Linked DNA regions of Homo sapiens. The protein of the gene in region 1 interacts with the protein of each later gene in a pairwise test. Each region holds a gene or a part of one and is shown on either strand. Other genes may lie near its edges.

What was found.
Region 2: the proteins of ZBTB17 (region 1) and ITGB5 interact in a two-hybrid assay, tested with the Homo sapiens proteins (one study listed by BioGRID).
Region 3: the proteins of ZBTB17 (region 1) and MAGEA4 interact in binary tests that used the Homo sapiens proteins (3 or more experiments, as listed by UniProt).

The regions. Positions count from the first base shown.
Region 1 is NC_000001.11:15,945,102-15,952,200, forward strand, and holds part of ZBTB17 (zinc finger and BTB domain-containing protein 17), read right to left. Parts: intron 5,262-7,099; exon of another isoform or gene 4,830-5,261; intron 3,397-4,829; 5' UTR 3,395-3,396; coding exon 3,190-3,394; intron 2,023-3,189; coding exon 1,834-2,022; intron 1,216-1,833; coding exon of another isoform or gene 1,194-1,215; coding exon 1,053-1,193; intron 740-1,052; coding exon 614-739; intron 102-613; coding exon 1-101. UniProt on the Homo sapiens protein: Transcription factor that can function as an activator or repressor depending on its binding partners, and by targeting negative regulators of cell cycle progression.
Region 2 is NC_000003.12:124,842,366-124,849,365, forward strand, and holds part of ITGB5 (integrin beta-5 isoform a precursor), read right to left. Parts: intron 6,194-7,000; coding exon 5,944-6,193; intron 1-5,943.
Region 3 is NC_000023.11:151,908,695-151,915,888, reverse strand, and holds the start of MAGEA4 (melanoma-associated antigen 4), read right to left. Parts: upstream 3,001-7,194; 5' UTR 2,920-3,000; intron 380-2,919; exon of another isoform or gene 252-379; intron 1-251. UniProt on the Homo sapiens protein: Regulates cell proliferation through the inhibition of cell cycle arrest at the G1 phase. Also negatively regulates p53-mediated apoptosis.

The DNA of each region.
Region 1 (7,099 bases):
ACCCTCCTCCTTGACCTCAGCTGGCCCTGCGCCCTCCTCCTCTTGCTCCTCTTGCTCCTTTTGCTCCTCTTCCCCTTTCCGGGCGGGCTCCACCTCCATTTCTGCGGAGAAAAGGGCAAGCATGGAGGCGGCAGCCCTCTCTGCCTGAGCGCACGTGAGGGGCGCCGGCAACATGTGGAAGGGACAGTAAATGGCCCCAGCACTGGCCAAGGAAAGCCCCCGGGGGGGCCTGTGAACTGGGTATTTGCTGCTTGCGGGATGCAGGTAGGGGGCTTAGCCAGCTGGGGTGGGCGCTGTCGGCCAGCAGGCACTGGAGGGTTGCCGTGGGTGGCAAGGCACCCCTGCACGGTGCTGAAAGCCGGGAAGCAGCAGAAGCTCCAGGGCTTTGAAGGACGTGCCTGTGCTCACAGACACACGGCTAGCATGGTCAACCAAGGAACGACCTCGAGACTCAAGAACATGCGAAGACCAAGGTGTCCCAAAGCTGAAGTGCATGGTGACTCCAGGTGGGACTAGCTGGAGGCAGGAGGAGAGGGAGGCCCCAGTGCGCAGTGGAGGCAGGGCCCTGGGAGGATGCACCAGGTAGGGCCTGGTCCTGGCTGGGCGGGGCTACCTTGCTCCGAGCTCTCGGACAAAGCGGCCTCAGCTTCTGCAGCAGCCATGCCACTCGTGGGGTCTGGCTTGAGCTCCACAGGCGGCGGCTCCCGGGGCGCATCGGCTTTCTCTGTCTGCTCTGCACCTGGGTGGGGGAAGCACCGGAGGCTGGATTGCTACCCTCTGCCCAGGGGTCGGATACCTCTCCTGGACCAGCGCGCTGGTGGTGGCTGCGTGTGACCCAGGAGGGGAGGCCCCAGCACACCCCTAGCCAAGGCTGTTGTGTCTGCTCTGGTTGAAACAGACCCCCTGGAACACACAATAGGTCATTCTGGGTAACACAGGCTCAAGAGGTGCAGGTGCCCGTGCTACCTGCCCCAAGGCAGCCCTCACTACCCTGTGCCCAGGCTGCTGGGAGGTGACAGGACAGCCGGCTGGGTCCTTGGCATCTGACTCACCGCTGGCCGCACTCTGGGCCTGACCGCCGCGCTCCTCCTTGAGGTCCCTGCTGGGGCCTATGGGTGTGCTGCGTCCTGCCTGCTCCAGCCTGCTCAGCGTGCTGGTGGCCACCTTCTCCTCTTTGGCTCTCTTGTCCCCTCCTGGAGATGGAACAGGGCAGACCTGCCGTTTCCCATCAAGTGCCCGCCATCTGGAGGTGTGAGGTGGCCCAGAACTTGCTAGGTCTTCCTCGTCCTCCCTAGGGTACCTCTAAGTAGTGGTTTGCTGATTTGTTCATTCACCAAATTATTCACAGGGCACCCACTCCATGCCAGGCTGATGGCTGGGCACTGGGAATACAACAGTGATGGTTCCTGCTTGTGTGGGACATGCAGACCCCATGTGTGCACTAAGGGAGCTGATCAGAGGTCAGCACTAGGAAAGGGAGGAACGCAGCCTCTGGAAGTCTACAGCAAGGCACCTGGCCCATAGTGGGCATCTGAGGGCTTTTATCTTAGCAGCTAAGGGAAGTGGAAGGAGGGGCTCAGGAGAACAGACCCGCAGGAGGGTTTAGGAGCCTGCCCGTGTGCAAAGGCACTGAACCAGGCACGGCTCCCGGGTGCTCTGTAGGGGAAAGGCAGGCAGAGAGGCCACCCTCAGACCTGAGGCTAACCCTTGCCAGCACCCACAACCGAGGCAGGGCCAGATGAGGAAACTGAGACCCAGAAAGTCAGAGGCAGAGCCCACATCAAAAGCCAAGGTCTCTGGCCATCTGCTTGGGAGCAGCTGCCAATAACCTACCTTCTGTGGCCAAGGCCTCCGCATTTCCCCCAGGGCTGGTAGCCGGCTCAGCAAGTGACTTGAGGGCATGGCAGGCCGTGATGATGTCCTGCATTTGGAGGAAAGTGGCCACGGCCAGCACATCATCCACGTTCTCAGGGCTCAGGCTCAGCTTGGCCGTGTACATAAACTCCAGCACCTGCCCCAGGCCTACCAAGGACAGGACAGCTGTCACAGACCCACCTCAAGATCCGGCACCGGCAGCCTGCCCCACCACTCCACTCAGCAGCAGGACGCAGGGATTTAGGAACAGCTGAGTGGCAAGCCTGCATCGCCCCATCTCCTCTGTGGAGAGGAGGCAGGTAACCTGGGGGATCTCAGCACTACCAACAGCCCTTGAAAAGAAGTGCTCGCTGAGGGTCTGAATGCCTGCCCTGCACAGAGAACAAAAGGTGTGAACGCCCACCCTGCACAGAGGACAGGAGGTGTGAATGCCCACACTGCACAGGGAACAGAAGGTGCAACTGTCCGCCCTGCATGGAGGAGGATGGGCTGTGAATGCCGCCCATGCATGGAGAAAAGGAGGTGTGAATATGCACCCTGCACAGAGGACGGGGGTATAAATGCCCATCCTGCAGGGAGGACAGAGTGTGAATGCCTGCCCTGGATGAGGACAGAGGTGTGAATGCCCACCCTGCATTGAGGACGGATGTTGTGAACACCTGCCCTCCACACCCTCTTATTTGGCCGCTACACTTCACCAGTGGAGGACACTCCAACCTGACTTTCATCAGGGCTCTGCTACCAACTCTCTATCTGACTGACCTCCAGGCCAGTCACTGACCTCTTTGGGTCTCAGTTTCCACATCTATAAAATGGGAGAATAATACCTTCTCATGGCATGTCACGTCAGTCTGGGTTGGGAGTCTGAATCCAGGACCAGTTCCTTCCACAACCCCAAGGTCTTCCTGACACTGCTCCCAGCCCCTAGGCCTTCCCCATCACCTCTCCCCACGCTTCTAGTTAGCACTGGGGTAGATGCTTCAGGACTGACTCTGCCACGGAAAGGGGCCAGAGGGCATAGAGCCTGCCTACTCTCTGCCCCTCCCAATGAGGCCTTTCCTGTGTTCACTGCGGCCTAGAGCTCATCATGAGCCCTTCCTGCCCGTTCTCCCCTTACCACTCCACTACCAATCAAAACAGGCCCCCAAAAGGTGGGAGGAACTTAGTACTGAATTGCTCATGGCCTGAAGCCTGTGCGGGAGGCCTGTTGCATCCCACAGCCTGCAGGTGCTGCCCCTGGAGGGCCTAGCATGGCACAGGGCCGGCCATAGCTTCTGGCTATCAGCAAGCTCAGCCCCAGCCCTGACGGGGTACCTGCCGCGTTACTGATGTCCAGGTGCACCACGTCCTTCTGGTCCACGAAGAGCATCTTGAAGTACTCGCTGCAGGCCGCCAGCACTGCTTTATGAGCCTTAAAGTGAACACCGTCCACCACAAAGGTGCAGTCACAGAGAAGCCCCAGCTGCCGCTGCTGGTTCAGCTGTTCCAAGACATGCTGGCTGTGCTGGGGAAAGTCCATGGCTGAAGAAAGCCAAAGGGCGTTGGGGTTAGCACGGAGAAAGGACGTCAGACACGCTCAACAGTCACTCCTAAAGTCCCAGGCGAGCACCATGGAGAAGACAGAATTAAAACAAGTGAGGGCATTTCTGCCACAAAAGGGCAGTTCAGTCCAGATACCCCCTGCAAGCCAAACTCAACCAACTGGTGGCTCCTGTATTCCTGGGTTTACTGTCCAGGAAAAGTGGCCCAAACCAAAAAGCACTGGGGCACCAACACGAGGCAGCCGCCTCCGTATTCAGCCTGATAATAACATGAAAAAGCCAAAAAAGGGAACAAATACAGAACACTGAAATGTGTCATCATTTCAAAAATGAAACGACATGGTCACTTTAACATTTGTTACAAAAAGAATGCATGACAATCTCAGAATAAAGGACAGATGTTTCAATTGGACATGTTGGTCTTTAAGAAAACTTTCCTATTTTCTCATTCTCTCATGGACAGGTGAAGACAAGACGGTGTTTCATCAGCCAGTGTTGCAGAACTCGGCCCCTCTCAGGCTCTGCACGTACCCCATCCCCCGACAAAGCCTAGCTCTCCCTCTCTTTCTGATTCATGGGAACTACCTAGAGTTGCGGAGTCTTCTGACTCCAGAAACCTGTGTCCTGGTGGCCATCCCAGGAGAAACAACTTTGATCCTGACCCCAAGAGCTGCTGACCTGGCCACAACTTCTCTGTCAAGGGCCTCACTTAATGCCTGGAAATCCCACAAGTGAAAATGCTCAGGAAAATTCCATGGCCCAGTGCCGAGCAGTCTTGAACCGCACAAGCCGTGACTAAGTAACTATCTAAAACAGCTCTCCCTCCCGCCCCAACACCACCCAGAGTGGGCGTCAACATCAGCAATTGTCTAGGGAAAATAAGCGGGCCCTCTTTTCTAGAAAGAACCCATTTCAGAATGTTTGAAGAGAAAAATCAACACCCACTGTCTGGGGCCACATTAGACAGATTCAACTGGGCACGGCTGTCACGCCCTGGCCCAGGATCTGCTAAGGGGTAGTGAGTTCTCTGCCTACTCCTCCTCTTCTCTGAGGCCTGAGTCTGCACGGGGCTGGCTCCCCGGCTTCTGGGCAGGTGAGAGGGACACTTTGGGGCTCTCCGCCCCCAGTTTCGGCAGCTCTGCCCCGGCTCAGGCACTCCCCTGTGACATCAGCATCTTGGGGGGTGAATCACTGCCGCAGCTCTGAAGCTGCTGTGGCCATGCATGGCTGTCGGGCTGTGATGAGTCCGGAGGAAGCCACGCCCCTCACACCAGCACAGGTCGGCCTTGAAGGGCGCCAAGGCCTCCCACCACGTGATGTCTGGAAACTTTTCACAAGTGGGGGTATCTGCTGAGCGGGGGGAAGTGACGCAACAAATAACGGGGAGCATGGCAGTGGCAACAGGCATGAGCCACAGCGCACCAGCCTCCGAGCCACAAGTTCAGCGTTGCTGCTGCTGCCAGAGGCCCAGAAACAGCTGTTCCCTCCCCCTACACATCCCCGCGCAGGCTTTGGCTCTCTCAATGACATTCCTAAATGGCTGTGGCTAGAGCCCTAAGTGTAAGCACTGGAGAGCCAGGGCCAGCCCCGAAATCAGGAGGTAAGGCCCTGGGGCAGCTGGCCCCGCACCAAGTGCACCAAGTGGCTGGCAGCAGCACACGGCCACCTGGAGCAAAGCACAGAGGCCTTTCTCTCCTGTCCTCAGTCCCTGGAAGCAGCAGGTTCCTATCTGTGACCTGAAGGAACGCAAGGGAGAATCGTGGCTGCGCTGCTCCTATGCACTGGACATGGGGAGGCACCAATGTCCAGCTTGTGGATCAAGACCTGAAGGGCACAAAGGGCAAGGTGGGTGCAGAAGGAACCAAAGGCAGGGGCGAGGTGGGCCCAGGCCACGGCAACCCTAGAGCTGTCTTCTCCTGGCTGTGGAAAAGGTCACGTGAGCACACAGGTGTGTGGGTGGCAAGCCCTGGGCCTCAATTGCTAGTCACCCCCTACATACCCAGGAGCCCCAAGTGCAGAAGAGGGGAATACCAGGGCCCACACAGGGCAAAATCCTCAACTGGCTTCAGAAGCAGCCCATCTGGAACTTGCAAGTGAGGCCCAACCCTTCTCTCCAGGCTGTGTGCCTGGCTTCCTCACCTTCCCCAGGAGCCAACCCGAAACTTGAGCCACCCAGGTGCTAAAACAACCTGGGGAGCATCAGCTGAACCCCCAGAGGTACAAAGAACCCTCTAGCAGGAAAACCATCTGACTTGCCGGGAAGAGACATGTGAGGAGACTCCTAGCCAAGGGGAGGGACAGGATCAATCCCCTTGTGTGGGCCCAAGGCTGGGATGAGCCTCCCTGTGGCCATGTGCCCTGGGGCTTCCTGGCAAGCGCAGCCCCGCCCAGCCATACAGCTGTCCTGGGACTGGATGGATGGATGGATGGGTAAGCTAGATAGATTAGATAAGACACATTCGCTAGATAATAAAATAGTAAAGGCCCCAAGGACAGGGTGGGTGGTGGCCCAGCCCCCCACATACCACCACCCGCCAAGAGAGCAGCTGTGTGCCCATGAGCAACATTTTCCACCGTGCTGACTGCACTTTTCCAATGCAAGATGCCCGCCCAGAAGTGGGCTCCTCCCACACACGGGTGTTAGGAGGAGAAACAGAGGCGTCTATAATCCTCTGAGGCTGCCCCAGCAGAGAAACGCACCAAAAGGGAAGAAAACAGGAGAAATGATAAGAAGGGGGGAGGAAGAAGTGAAGATGGGCAAAGTAAGGGAAGGAAAGGAGAGAGAAGAAGGAAGGAAGGAAGGGAGAGAGGGAGGGAGGGAGGGGCCCTGTACCCACAGAGAGATCAGCAGCAGCTGAAATGCGCTTACCAGTACAATCTGGGACTGGCCTCCCAGGGGTGCAAGAGCAGCTCGAGGGGGCCAGGAGGGGGCGGACTAAGTGCTAAATGGTGTTACCCGCAGAACTGTGTCACTGTGGACTTTACAACCGAAGCCCCACCCTCACAGGGCAAGTGGAGCTCAGGGTCCCCCAGGCTGTTCCCCAGCCGGGAAGCTTTAACAGCCCCTCTCTCAAGGCCCGTGGCGAGACGGAGGCATGGCCGGCTGGGTCCTTCCCTCTGAGGGGCTGAGCTAGAACTAGGCAGTCCCCCACCTCCAACCCACGTGAACTGCTCTGGAGGGATCACCAGCCTGTATCCTAGTTCCCCTCTTATCTATTCCTCAGCGACAGGAACCCAGCAGGACGGCCAGGCTTGGAGGGACATAGGAAAAGGGTTTGGGAGCGAAGGGGTGTGCAGGTCCTAGGAACATATCCCCTCCTAAGTACGTGCTAGGAGGTGCTGTCTGGGGAGACGTTAACCACAGTAATCAGATCAACAGCCAGCTGCTCCCCATCGCCCCCAGATGTGCGGGAACACAGGGTGAAGAAATACTGTTCCCACCAGGCAGCCTGCCCCACCCCACCCTTGGAATACGGTGCCCATCGCTCAAGCACAAGTGTCAAGGTCTGTGGTCTTGTCTTCACCTTGCGTGATGGGCGATAAATATGTGCACTAGTTAAAGCAACTTCTAAGGAAGATCCTAAAACCTTAGAACCATAGAAAATGCCAACAGAACGAGACCACAGAGCCCAGCAGCCCAGAGTCCTCATTTTAGATGCAGACTGACCTGACCCCCACTCACA
Region 2 (7,000 bases), on another chromosome or scaffold:
TCCATTACAGCTCTAAGAGTTTCAGCTTGATCTAGAACTAATAAAGTTGGAAGAGAGAGCTTATATTGTTTTACCAATGGGTTCACAAAGTAAAGGGAAGAGGGGAGAGTGTCCCAGCCAGAGAAGAGCATGTGCAAGAGTCCTGTGGCAGAAGGGAGCACAGAGCCCAAGGACAGAGGGAGGTCGGGGGGCTGTGGTGCAGAGTAACGGGTGAGGATGGGCGAGGAGGAGCCTGGGAGGCAGGCTGGGCCAGACTGTGCAGGGTCTCCAGCCATGTTAAGGAAGTCGCTCTTTCAGGATAAATGATGGAAAACGAGCACTAACAGGCCTGAGGGAAAGGCTTTATAATCTAATTCAAGCTGCATACATGGGAAAGAAAACAGCCTTAGCAACAGCTAGGAGGACCCTGCCTTAAATGCTGTCAAAAAGCAGACTCACCAGGGCAGGTCTGGGCAGGCTCCCTTCTGTAAAGGGGCAATCTTTGGTTCTCTAAGGGGCTATTCCATTCCCTCTCAGGGCTACAGTCCCTTCTCCATCCACACAGTCACAACAGCACAGCACAGAGTCCCCAGCAACAGGCCCACCCTGCACAGAATCAATCAGCCCCACTCCTGTGATAGTCGCGCTCTCCCTCTCGGGGCCGGCGGCAGCGATGGGATCTCCCTGCCTGGCTTTCCTTTGTGTTTCTCCCTTCTCCTTTCCCGAAGTCTTCATGAACACCTTGTACTTGGACAGGTGGAACTCTCTTTTAACCTCAGCCTCGGGCCACCCAAACTTTCCATTACCTCCTCATTTTGTCATGAAAAGAACAATCATGGAAATTACATTCCCAGCTGGAAGAAGGAACTGAGGTCCCATCTGTAGCTATTTGGCAAGTGGATCATAGGCCCAGAAGGAAGTAAGTCTATCCAAACTCTCCCCCTCTCTCTTCCTCCAAGATCCTGCCCTGGCCTATGTGGCTCTGGCCCATGATTTAGGACTTCAGGTGTGTGGTTTTTTTACACTTGGTCCGGTTGGTTGCGGACAGGGAGAAAAGAAACTGAATAATGATTGCTGTTTAACCAGGAAAGCTGTGACAAACTCAGCTACAGCTCAGCATGTTTTACCTCCTCCCTTTCACTCCCGCAAACAGCAATGAGCAGATACATTTTTACTGCAAAGAATGACTGTTAAGTAGTTAGGAATTAGAAGATGTGTTTGCCAGAGAGAAGCCTTCATTGTAGAGAATTTACTATAACCAAGTCAGAGTCACTTAGGAAAAGAGCTTTGTCACACAGACGCTAGGAGAGTCTCCACTGACACTGGAATAGGATGTCACCTGTGATGAGTTATCTGACTTAACCCCAGAGCAGCTGTCTGAGTGGCCTGAAGATCCGGACGTTCTGGGGTCATGCCAGGAGACTATCCTACCCCTCTCATGTGTCTGTGCTGTGAGACCCCAAATAAGCGCCATGCATACAGAGTTACTAAATTAAGGATTATTAACAAGGGAGATAAAAAATAAAATATATATGGTTAAAGAGCCAAGGGAGTGTCTGTATGTATAAAAAGTGAATCCAATTTGAAGACACCAGACCTAGGCAAATCCAGAAAACAATCTAATGCCTCAGGAGAATATCATGGATCAAGCTGACATGGAAAGGCTCTCCATGTCATGGAACAGGAATGAAAACATCTTATCTGCTTCTTCTAACTCTAAACATATACAACTGCTGGATAAAATGTAATTTAAAATTTTTTAATATATAGCCTAGGCTGGAAGCTTAGAAAGTAAATCCCAGAAACGAAGAGGAAACCATTCAATAAATGAATGGACCTTTCAGAAGTATTTGGTTTTGGCAAAAAAAAAAAAAAAAAAAAAAAAAAAGAAAACACCAAAAAACAAATGAATGGACTTAAAAGAATAGGTGGGGGCTGGGTGCAGTGGCTCACGCCTGTAATCTCAGCACTTTAGGAGGCTGAGGCAGGCAGATCACCTGAGGTCAGGAGTTCAAGACCAGCCTGGCCAACGTGGTGAAACGCCATCTCTACTAAAAATACAAAAATTAGCTGGGCATGGTGGTGGGCACCTGTAATCCCAGCTACTCAGGAGGCTGAGTCAGGATAATCACTTGAACCCAGGAGGTGGAGGTTGCAGTGAGCTGAGATCCCGCCACTGCACTCCAGCCTGAGTAACAGAGCAAGACTCGGTCTCAAAAAAAAAAGGTAGGAAATGGGCAGGCACTCATGCCAAGGACCCCCGCAATGGGTCAGGCCTTGACTGAGGCCCTACAGGCTTGGAGCAGGGTCTACCAGGAATAGATGCTGAGCCTCAGTCCTGCAGAGGGCTGAACACTGGAATAGGGCTGTCTGCATAAAGCCGAACAGCACAATGAGCTGCTGTGCTACTAAAACCAGAAACAGAAAAACTCCAGCTACTGGTCTAGGAAAGCAGCACGGAAGCTGACCATCTACCATGAATGAGATGAATTACCCATAAAAACTGTAACTCCAGGCCTGAGCAATTGGAATACACTGCTTTTATGGTGAAGACATCTCCATTTGAAAAATTAACAGAAAAACTAGTCCCACGGTGAACCTGGAGATTCTCGACAACGGCAAACATAAAACTGCTCTGCAGGGATGCCCCCACAACCTCCAAGGAAGAGCTAATGAAAAGCTTATAAATTGCATGAAAAACAATTCATGAAGGCATGTCAGCAGGTCCAATACACTGACTGGCTGTGGATCCACCTGAAGGATCCACAATTCAAGAAACAGAAACAGAATAATTTAAAATACTTTAGGCTGGGCGTGGTGGCCCACCCCTGTAATCTCAGCACTTTGGGAAGCTGAGGTGGGTGGATCACCTGAGGTCAGGAGCTCAAGACCAGCCTGGCCAACATGGTGAAACCCCATCTCTACTAAAAAATACAAAAATTAGCTGGGTGTGGTGGCACGTGCCTGTAATACCAGCTACTCAGGAGGCTGAGGCAGGAGAATCACTTGAACCCAGGAGACACAGGATGCCGTGCTGCCTGGACGTGGGGAGACAAAGCTCGGCCTGCTCACCAAGCCACAGTGTGCCCCCACGCTGCGTGTGCCTCCCCAGCTCAGAGAAGAGAGCTTCACATAACTCAGGCCCGAGGTTTCCTTCCACATTCTCATTCTTCACTGGACTTCCTGCCTTACAAGTAGCTTTTCAGTGTGCCTTGTACTCACTGTCAGGAGTTTTACTGTCTGCAACAGGCTCTGCCTTAGAGGACTTAGAGAGTGAGCTCTGAATAAGTAATGATGTGTCATAACTTTGAATATTTAAATGCTGAGCGCCTAGAGCCAGCCCTTGATTCTCTGCCAGCTTCCAATCTAGTGTCTCGGTCAGTGGAAGGGCCTTGGAAGAATGAAAGTGGGGACACACCCTATCTGTCTGGAGACAGGGCCCAATTAGGACAGAGGTGAAAAGAAGCAAATAAAATCACTATTTCAGATGAATTGAAAAAAGGCTTAAGGCTTGCAGTTAAGATGCTGTTGCTCCTGGTAAGCAGCAAAATTTCAACAAAAACATTTGACACCCAGACTTAGCTGAAAAGGGCCTTGGAGACAGAATCAAAGTAGTAATAGTCCCTGTGGCCACCTGTCGCCAGGAGGAAGCTAAACCCAGCAAATGATGATGCCTAGTGCCTCTTCGTGGTTAAAGAATTTAGAGTTCATTTGTATTTAAAACTTTTTCTTGTCTGTTTTTCCACCAGTGTCAGTTCCCAATACCTGAAAAGATCTAAGTCAGCTTCTGGGAGAGTATACAGAAGGATCTGGAGGGATTCAGAAGAGCCTATGCCACCAGCACACTAACTTGCTCCTATCACCCAGCCCAACTTGGAGCTAGGAGCTCTGAAGGCTACCAAAGAGGACTTGTGGAGAGGGGAGGGCTCAGGGATTTAAGAACAGCTCTCTCCCCTTGGTGGCAGCTGGAAGACCAAGAATTGAGAATGGCATCACAAGATGGAAGGAGCTGGATCCCTGAGTTACTGCATGGAGAGCTGCCAAGGAAAGCAGCTCAGCCCTCATCAGATGTTGCACAAGCAAAAAAAAAAAAAACCAACAAAAAAAAAACGTTCATTGTGTTGAGCCACTGAGATTTGGAGACTCTACGTTACTGCAGCATAACCTACCATGATCCTCAGGTAAGCCCCTAGGACATGGGGGTAGGGTGGTTTAGGGACAGGTATTATTACTCAGCCTAAGGTAAAGTGTCTGTGTTGTAGTGTGATTTGAATGGGGAAGAAGACATTATATTAAACGCAAACGCAGGCCGGATGCAGTGGCTCATGCCTGTAATCCCAGCACTTTGGGAGGCTGAGGTGGATGGGTCGCTTGACGTCAGGAGTTCAAGACCAGCCTGGCCAACATGGTGAAACCCCATCTCTACTAAAAATACAAAAATCAGCCAGGTGTGGTGGCAGGCACCTATAATCTCAGCTACTCAGGAGACTGGGGCAGGAGAATCGGCTTGAACCCGGGAGGCGGAGGTTGCAGGGAGCCGAGATTGCACCACTGCACTCCAGCCTGGGCAACAGAGCAAGACTCCGTCTCAAAAAAAAATGCAAATGCAGACTCTAAAAGTAGTTTGTCTGTATTCATATTCCAGCTCTACCCCTTGCTGTTTGTATAATATTGGGTAAGTTATTCTCTCTAGGCCTCAGTTTCTGCATCTCTAAAATCTGGCTTACACTTACCTTAGAGACCTCAACAGATTGTTATGAGATTTAAATGAGATAATCCACAGAAAATATTTAGTATGGGGCTTGACACTTAGTAAAAACTTAAGTCTTAGTTATTTCCTATCTCATGACTAGTTTTGGACCTTACAACACAAACCCTCACTAAAGTTAAATGTGGAGATGAGGAAAGCAAGAGTTGGAAGTTACCACTCACTGCAGTCACTTGCATAATCTTGACATTTAAAGAAACTCCTGAAAGACTAAAAAGAAAAGAAACCAACCTAGTAGAGGTTGTGTTGCATGGGCTGAAGAATGCAATCCCCTCATACAACCACCCACCCCAGCATGCATACAAACGTCCCATGGCAGAGACCTGCTCACTAATCCTATTTCTTCTGATTCCTGGGCCTACAGCTACACTAGTTCCCAGCCTCCTGGCTCAGTCCTGTTCCGTCTAATAGCATGTGGGAGCGGGCATGGCAAAGGCCTATCCTCCTATGCATGACCCTCTAGGCAGCATGACCTTAGGAGCCATGTGTGGAAGATGGTAAAGCCTGGAAGATGGAAAGCACCTGAGTCCCTGAGTCACTGCTTGCAGGAGAAGTTCCATGGATGAAGAGACCCAGTTGGACTTGAGGAGCAGGAAATAAACTTCCAGCAAGTTTGAGCCATTATACACTTTGTTATTATAGAATCTGGCAGCAGTTAGAGACACCTGTTTTCTAATAATATGTCAAATCTTTTCTAGTTCAGGTGTTTATGTTGAAAAAAAAATTCTTACATTTAAAATAGGATTTTAATCTAATTATGTGAAAATAAGTTATAGTTATTTATAGAAAAACAACAGGGACAAATTTTGAATTCATTTCTCCCAAAGCACCTCAGTTACTACAAGCAAGGGGAAAGTTTAAGTTGCCCTGCCTGCTGCCTCCCTGATAATCTGGATCCATCACTCCCTGAGGACATTTTCTGAATTCTATTAATGTGAGCAAATGGTGCTGTGCATGGCAGGCAGGAAAATCAAGGGGTTGTGATCATTTTATCTTTACAACCTTGTGACAGTTCACTCACTTCTTCACACGTCAGGAAAGGAGAGAATGTATGCTTATCATTAATCAAATTAAACGCCTAAGCCTGGCCACCCCTCCTAACCATGCCTTCCTTAATTCTTTCTTTGAGCTAAATTTTCCTGCTTCTCCATTCTCCCACCCTTAAGTACCCAACAGAAGGGCAACTGGTCACTTACCCAATGCACGGATTGGTCTGGTACCTCGGTGCCGTGTAGGAGAAAGGAGAGATGTCCTTATCAACAAAAGACCCAAATCCCAACCGGAAGTTGCTGGTGAGCTTCCTCATCTCCTCCGCGAGTTTGGTGCCCAGGCTCCGGATATTGTCCAAGTCATCCTTCATGGACAGGGAGAGGTCCATCAGGTAGTACAGGTCCACAGGATAGTCCTCCACCTGGCGAACCTGTAGCTGGAAGGTGGTCTTGTCACCTGCACCAACAGAGAGGCCACGTGTGTTAGAGGTTGTGCAACCTGCTGAGGGCTGAGGGATGGGATTTGCTTTCAAAGCTAGTTTGCCTCTTACTTTTCTTTAGTGATTGTGTGCCTCACAGAAGATTTTTCTTGGAAGTAAAGTGCCTGAAGGGAATACGGTGCTGAGAATGGAGGCCTGGGTTCTCCTTCCTAAACATTCGGCTTAGCACTTCTTTTTTTATTTTATTTTATTTTTTTTGAGACAGTGTTGCTCTGTCGCCCAGGCTGGAGTGCAGTGGTGCGATCTTGGCTCACTGCAACCTCTGCCTACCAGGTTCAAGCGATTCTCATGCCTCAGCCTCCTGAGTAGCTGGGATTACAGGTGCCCACCACCATGCCTGGCTAATTTTTGCATTTTTAGTAGAGACGGGGTTTCACTATGTTGACCAGGCTGGTATCCAACTCCTGGCCTCAAGTGATCCACCTACCTCAGCCTCCCAAAGTGCTGGGATTACAGGTGTGAGCCACCACGCCTGGCCTGGGCTTAGCATTTCTAAGGAAACTCCTTAACAACCAGGCTCCTTGGTAGTGTTCTGTCTTCTCAGCAACAAAGACCCTTGAGTAATCAGTGGACAGTGAACCAGACAATTTCATGAACACAAACTGGGTGGAGAGTAGCCCACCAACCACATACCAACTCCAGAGAAAGACCCAGTCACGATGGGAATGTGCGTTTGAAACAAAAAGCAGGGAAGAAATGAACAAAAGAGGGGTGTGGGCCTGAGTGGGGAAGAACCAAGTTGGGGAGAGAGATGTGCAAGGCAA
Region 3 (7,194 bases), on another chromosome or scaffold:
GTGGGGTACGCTTAGCCCTCTCTTAGGGTCCTGAGATTGATGCCCGGCAGAGCCTGGCCTCACTAGTCTTACACTAAACACCCCAAGCTCTGACTCCAGAGTCCCCTGCGACTTCAGAGGCAGTGGGGTGGTGGGCGCCCCAAGCTCAGAAGTCCGCCCACAGGTGGCCCACGGCAGGTAGGAGTGGTGCAGGATTATTTGGGGTCGTCTATCTGGGGTGGTGGCCTCCTGAGTCCTCCTCAGCGTCTCACCTTGACTCCTCACAGGGCCTGGCCTGCTTCCTTCCACCAATCCCAAGCTGCTGGTCAGACAGCAGCTCGCTTCTCTCTAACCCCCAATGCGCAAGTCAGTGGCATCACATCCGGGCCCCTGAGGCTTTCTTGGGTTGAAAGCGGAAGCGGAAACACGATTCAGCGTGGATGGGGGTGGGGGGGAGGTCGGTGGAGGGGGCGGGTTTTTGGGAGTGGGTTGAAAGCGGAAGCGGAACCCGATTCAGCGTGGATGGGGGTGGGAGGGGTGAGGTTGGTGGAGGGGCCCCGGTTTTTGGGGTGGCAGATGGCGGTATGACAGAGGTGGGGGGTCGAGGAGGAGTGCTGGTGGGGGATGGGGGCGCGGATGGGTTTAGGAGTGCAAATGGTAATGGGAAAGGGGACGTGATGGGGGATGGGAATAGGGGTGGGGTACGCTTAGCCCTCTCTTACGGTCCTGAGATTGATGCCTGGCAGAGCCTGGCCTCACTAGTCTTACACTAAACACCCTAAGCTCTGACTCCAGAGTCCTCTGCGACTTCAGAGGCAGTGGGGTGGTGGGCGCCCCAGACTCAGAAGTCCGCCCACAGGTGGCCCACGGCTGGTAGCAGGAGTGGTGCGGGATTATTTGGGGTCGTCTATCTGGGGTGGGGGCCTCCTGAGTCCTCCCTCAGCATCTCACCTTGACTCCTCACAGGGCCTGGCCCGCTTCCCTCCGCCAATCCCAAGCGGCTGGTCAGAGCAGCTCGCTTCTCTCTAACCCCCAATGCGCAAGTCAGTGGCATCACATCCGGGCACCTGGGACTTTCTTGGGTTGAAAGCGGAAGCGGAAACCCGATTCAGCGTGGAAGGGGGTGGGAGGGGTGAGGTCGGTGGAGGGGGCGGGTTTTTGGGGGTGGGTTGAAAGCGGAAGCGCAACCCAATTCAGCATCCATGGGGGTGGGAGGGGTGAGGTTGGTGGAGGGGCCCCAGTTTTTGGGGTGGGAGATGGCGGTGTGAGAGAGGTGCGGGGTTGAGGATAGGAGTGCTGGTGGGGGATAGGGGCGCGGATGGGTTTGGGAGTGCAAATAGTAATGGGAAAGGGGAGGCGGTGGGGGATAGAAATAGGGGTGGGGTACGCTTGGCCCTCTCTTAGGGTCCTGAGGTTGATGCCTCGTAGAGCCTGCCCTCACTAGTCTTACACTAACCACCCCAAGCTCGGACTCCAGAGTCCCATGCGACTTCAGACGCAGTGGGGTGGAGGGCGCCCCAGACTCAGAAGTCCGCCCACGGGTGGCCCACGGCTGGTAGCAGGAGTGGTGCGGGATTATTTGGGGTCGTCTATCTGGGGTGGGGGCCTCCTGAGTCCTCCCTCAGCGTCTCACCTTGACTCCTCACAGGGCCTGGCCCGCTTCCCTCCGCCAATCCCAAGCTGCTGGTCAGACAGAGCAGCTCGCTTCTCTCTAACCCCCAATGCGCAAGTCAGTGGCATCACATCCGGGCCCCTGGGGCTTTCTTGGGTTGAAAGAGGAAGCGGAAATCAGATTCAGCGTGGATGGGGGTGGGAGGGGTGAGGTCGATGGAGGGGGCGGGTTTTTGGGGGTGGGTTGAAAGCGGAAGCGGAACGTGATTCAGTGTGGATGGGGGTGGGAGGGGTGAGGTTGGTAGAAGGGCCCGGGTTGTTGGGGTGGGAGATGGCGGTATGAGAGAGGTGGGGGGTTGAAGAGGAGAGGAGTGCTGGTGGGGGATGGGGGCGTGGATGGTTTGGGAGTGCAAATGGTAATCGGAAAGGGGACGTGGTGGGGGATGGGAATAGGGGTGGGGTACGCTTAGCCCTCTCTTAGGGTGCTGAGGTCCATGCCTGGCAGAGCCTGCCCTCACTAGTCTTACACTAATCAACCCAAGCTCTGACTCCAGAGTCCCCTGCAACTTCAGAGGCAGTGGGGTGGTGGGCGCCCCAGACTCAGAAGTCCGCCCACGGGTGGCCCACGGCTGGTAGCAGGAGTGGTGCGGGATTATTTGGGGTCATCTATCTGGGGTGGGGGCCTCCTGAGTCCTCCCTCAGCGTCTCACCTTGACTCCTCACAGGGCCTGGCCCGCTTCCCTCCGCCAATCCCAAGCTGCTGGTCAGACAGAGCAGCTCGCTTCTCTCTAACCCCCAATGCGCAAGTCAGTGGCATCACATCCGGGCCCCTGGGGCTTTCTTGGGTTGAAAGAGGGAGCGCAACCCGATTCAGCGTGGATGGGGGTGGGAGGGGTGAGGTCGGTGGAGGGGGCGGGTTTTTGGGGGTGGGAGATGGCGGTATGAAGGTGGTGGGGTGTTTGGGAGGATGGGGAGCTGGTGGAGGATGGGAGTGTAGATGGGTTTGTGAGTGCGAATGGGAATGGGAAGGGGTTAGGGGATGGGAATGGGGTTGCGGGATGGGAATAGCGGTGTGGTACGCTCAGCTGGCTTTTAGGGTCCTGAGGTTGATGCCTGGCAGAGCCTGCCCCCACCAGTCTTGCACTGATCACCCCAAGCTCTGACTTCAGAATCCCCTGAGGCTTAAGTGGCAGTGGGGTGGTGGCCCCCCCACCACAGACTGAGAAGTCTCCAGGAGTGGCCCAGGGCTGGCAGCAGGGGTGGTGTTGGATTTTTTGTGGTCGTCTATGTGGGGTGGGGGTCCTCCTGAGTCCTCCCTCAGCATCTCACCTTGTCTCCTTATAGAGCCTGGGCGGGCTTCCCTCCGCCAGTCTCAAGCTGCGAGTCAGACGCAGAAGCTCGCTTGTCTCTAACCCCCAGTGCGCAAGTCAGTGGCATCACATCCGGGCAGCTGGGGCTTTCCTTGGTTGAAAGCGGGGGCGGAACCGGGGATCCTGCCTGGATGGGGGTATGGGTGTTGGGGGGTGGGGGTGCAGGTGTGGGGTGGGGGATGAGGGTGCGGGGGTTGAATTGGGGATGGGGGTATGAGGGTGGCACGGGGTTGGGGAGGATGGGGTGCTGGTAGGGGATGAGGGTGTGGATTGGGTTAGGAGTGTGGAAGGGAATGGGAATGGGGTGGGGGATAGGAATGGGGGTGGGGAACCCTCAGCTCTCTCTTAGGGTCCTGACTTTGACGCCTGGCACAGCCTGCCCCCACCTTGCCTCCTCACAGAGCCTGCGCCTGCTTCCCTCCGTGGATCTCGAGTTGCTGGTCAGACCAATGCGCAAGTCAGGGATGTCACATCCGGGCCACCTGGGTTGACAGCAGGGGTGGAACCGGATTCGGCCAGGGTGGGAGTTGGGGTGGGGGAGGAGGCGAGAGGTCCTGGGGTTAGGGGTTGAGGTAGGCGTGCCCCTCAGTCCTTTGATTCCTGGCATAGCCTGGACCCCTGTTCTCTGCGGATGGTGTCTGCTCCCCTCAGACCAAGGTTCTGACTCCTAGTCCCCTGAGGTCACAGTGGGGGGAGAGGTGTCCTTGGGCGACAAAGCCGCTGGGGTCTTCCAGGGCTGACAGGAGGGACTAAGCTGGATTCTGTGGCCCCTCTTTGAGCGGGGGTTTACCCTCAGTCTTCACTCAGGAGGGTCCTCTTCCTGGGTCCTGGCTCTTTGTTGAAGTGATGGGTTGGAGATGCTCTTTTTCTCTCACCTCTGAGCATTTGCCCAGCTGTACCCCTTGCAGAAAATGGCTGCGGGTACCAGGCGAGGTGTTCCCTGGGTGGCTGCAGCACCCGTTATTGTAGTGACCTCTGTGAGAAGATGCACGCCTTCCCACGGGGGCTCCTCCCCAGCCAGAGCTGGACTTTGGAAACCTTTTTTCCTCAAAGAAATATATTTTACATATCTTCCAAGGATATATATAGGTAGCAACATATATATTTATTTCTATGAAAGAATACCTACCCTTAGTTTGCATGATTCACTCTGATACCCTATTCAACTTCTATTCCATTGTTTATGTTCTGTTAAAATAATTCTTTTCGAGACCAGCCTGGCCAACAGGGTGAAACACTGTCTTCACTAAATATAGAAAAAAAATTAAAAAATTAGCTGGGCGTGGTGGTGGGCGCCTATAATCCCAGCTACTTGGGAGGCTGAGGCAGGAGAATCGCTTGAACCTGGTAGGCGGAGGTTGCAGTGAGCCAAGATCGAGTCATTGCACTCCAGCCCGGGCGACAGTCTCAATAATAATAATAATAATAATATTAATAATAATAATAATAATAATGCTAATCCTCATCCACTAAGTTGGTTTCAGGTTGTAATTAGCAGATCTCCGGAACCATACTGCCTTAACCAACCCAATTTTCCTGCTGTCCTGCTATTACCCTAGGGTTACTGGAATCGTGTTTTGAGGTGCTGCCTCAGATTGTGCAGTGCAGTGAGGTGGAGATTTTAAAATGTTCATCCTATTCATTCTGTCATCTGACGTCTAGGCAGGCTATAGACTTCAACATCCCTGCAGCCAACCCCCCTCCAACTGACACCGCCCCAAACATAAGTACCAGTTCAACACAGTCCTCAGTCTCACCCAGGACTTTCTGTGTTTTGTTGCTTAGATTTTATTGCTTATATTGTTGTTTTTTCTTTCTTTCTTTTTCTCTTCTATAATTTTCCAGAGTTGATTTGGGAACCAGAGAACAGCAGCCTAAGTGTGACTGTAATTTTTGGCAGCTACAGGTAAGACACTAAATTGTAAATCATTTAAGCAGAATTGACATTTTTACAATGTTCTGCTCCTGATCAATGAATAGGTTATGCTCCTTTACTTATTTCAAACTCCTTTTACCTGAATCTGTCAGTATACTTTGATAGTTTCCTCTAGAAAGACCTTACACATTTTTCTTAGGCTTCTTTTTTGGTAATTCTTGGATTTTGTTGCTATTGCAAATGGCATATTTTCTATTAATTGTTCTAATTAATGGAAATTAATTAACTCTAATAGTTATTGCTATTGTGTGGCAGAGAATTTGATTTTGCTATAGTAATCTGTTGTACACCTCATTCTGAAAACCCATTGACTTGAATATTCCACATGCCTTTTTCTTTGAATTTTCAAGAATGATAAGGGTATTATCACTAAACATTATGTATTTTTCCTATATTCATGCCCCTTATTTATTATGATACTTATAGCTCTGACTTTGTGTCTCAATGATGATTTAAAACGTAGAGATAATAGCCTACATCTACTTCGTGTTCCTGCCTTTAATGATAATTCTTTGAACTTCTTAAATTTGTTTGCTGTTGATTTTAGGAAATGTATGTTCTCTTTCAATATAGGTTAACTAAATATTTTTACCATGAACTCATATTGAATTTCTTCCAAAAGCTTTTCCTGTACCCATTGATGTGATAAATTTTTTCTCCTCTATTTTGTGTGTAAAAAATTACAATGAAACTTTTTTTTCTAATGTTAAATCATATTTTCTTTCCTTGGGTAGAGCTTGTTTGTTCATTTAATATTCTACTAATTTACATAAGATATTTGCTGCTATGTAAGAGAGCTTGTTTATGTGTTTTTTCCATCGGGAGTGGGGGGTGGTCCTCATCTGATTTTTGAATCCAGAAGGGTTAATCTGGGAGAATGAATTGAAGAATTGTCTATATTTTGCGTGCTTTGAAGAGTTGAGATAAGATGATGGTTAGTTTTCCTTGATCATTTGGTGGAATCAGCCTCCGAAACCGACTAACCTGGGACGTTTGAGGATGGCTTGAGCTTTGAATATTGTATAGTTTCAGTTTGTGTCGTTTAATTGAAGTTTTCTTTTTGGATCAATTTGGTCATTTGTTTATTTTATTTCTACAAAATAGTTGGATCATTTAGGATTTCATTTTTAATGGCATGATATTTATGACAAAAAACGTTTTTTTATCAGGGAAGCCTCACACATATAGAATAATAGAGAGACTAACATAATGAACCCAGCATACCTGACGCTCAGCATCAACAACCTTAAATACACGGCAAATCTGGTTCCAGTTAGACACTCACCTACCTGCATCTCAGCTGCTGGAATAATGTGGATCAAATCAAAGACAGCATACCATTTCATCTCTAAATAATTCAATATTCATTTTTAAAAGACAAGGACATTGTACCCAGCTGTACCCCTCGCAGAGAATGGCTGCAGGTACCAGGCGAGGTGTTCCCTGGGTGGCTGCAGCACCCGTGATTGTAGTCACCTCTGGGTCACAATCACTACAAATAAAAACCCAATACAATTCTCATTTCTAAAAAATAAATAAATGATTATGAAATGTTCAACTGTTTTATGCACTTATCTAGAAGACTTATACTTTATAAAAATTTGTTTATTTGGATGAGTACCCAAAAATAGTATTACATAGTGATTTTTTGTAATTAAATCTTCTCTCACCTGTAGGTCCCCTCCACATGATCTGTTTTCTTGCCATCGCTTCGTTGTTGGAAAGAAACATATCTTATGTTCTTTCCAGTTTTCCATAGTCTGGATTTGCAACACTGTAATGTCCTTTATCATATTCTCTAGCCCTTAATTTCTAGGGCTGCAAAATGGCCCAGGCTCGTCAGGTTTATGCCCTGCCCCAGTCATAAATAAGCCATTTCTCCAAATATCTGGTTCCTTTTAATGGGAAATGGTTCTAGAAATCTACTTCTGGGTGCTAGGTGTGCTCATTGCTACTTTTGCTTTTGGTGTTTAATTTAAAAGCTCTTTAACAAACAAAGTTATGTAAATTTTCTCATGTTTTCTTATAGAAGTTGTATAGTTTTTGCATTTTGCATTAGGTCTATGATGTATTTTGAGTTAATTTCGTGAAATACCTAAGGATTTGTCTAGGTTATTATTATTATTTTTGTTTAGATACCCAGTTGTTCATGTACCAATTGTTGGAACAACTATACTTTCACCTTTATTGCTTTTGTTATAAATCACTTGATTGTATGTGTGCAGGTCTATGTTGGGGCTCTATTCTGTTTTTTTAATCTACGTGTTTTTTAATCCATTCACCAAATGAAATACATCT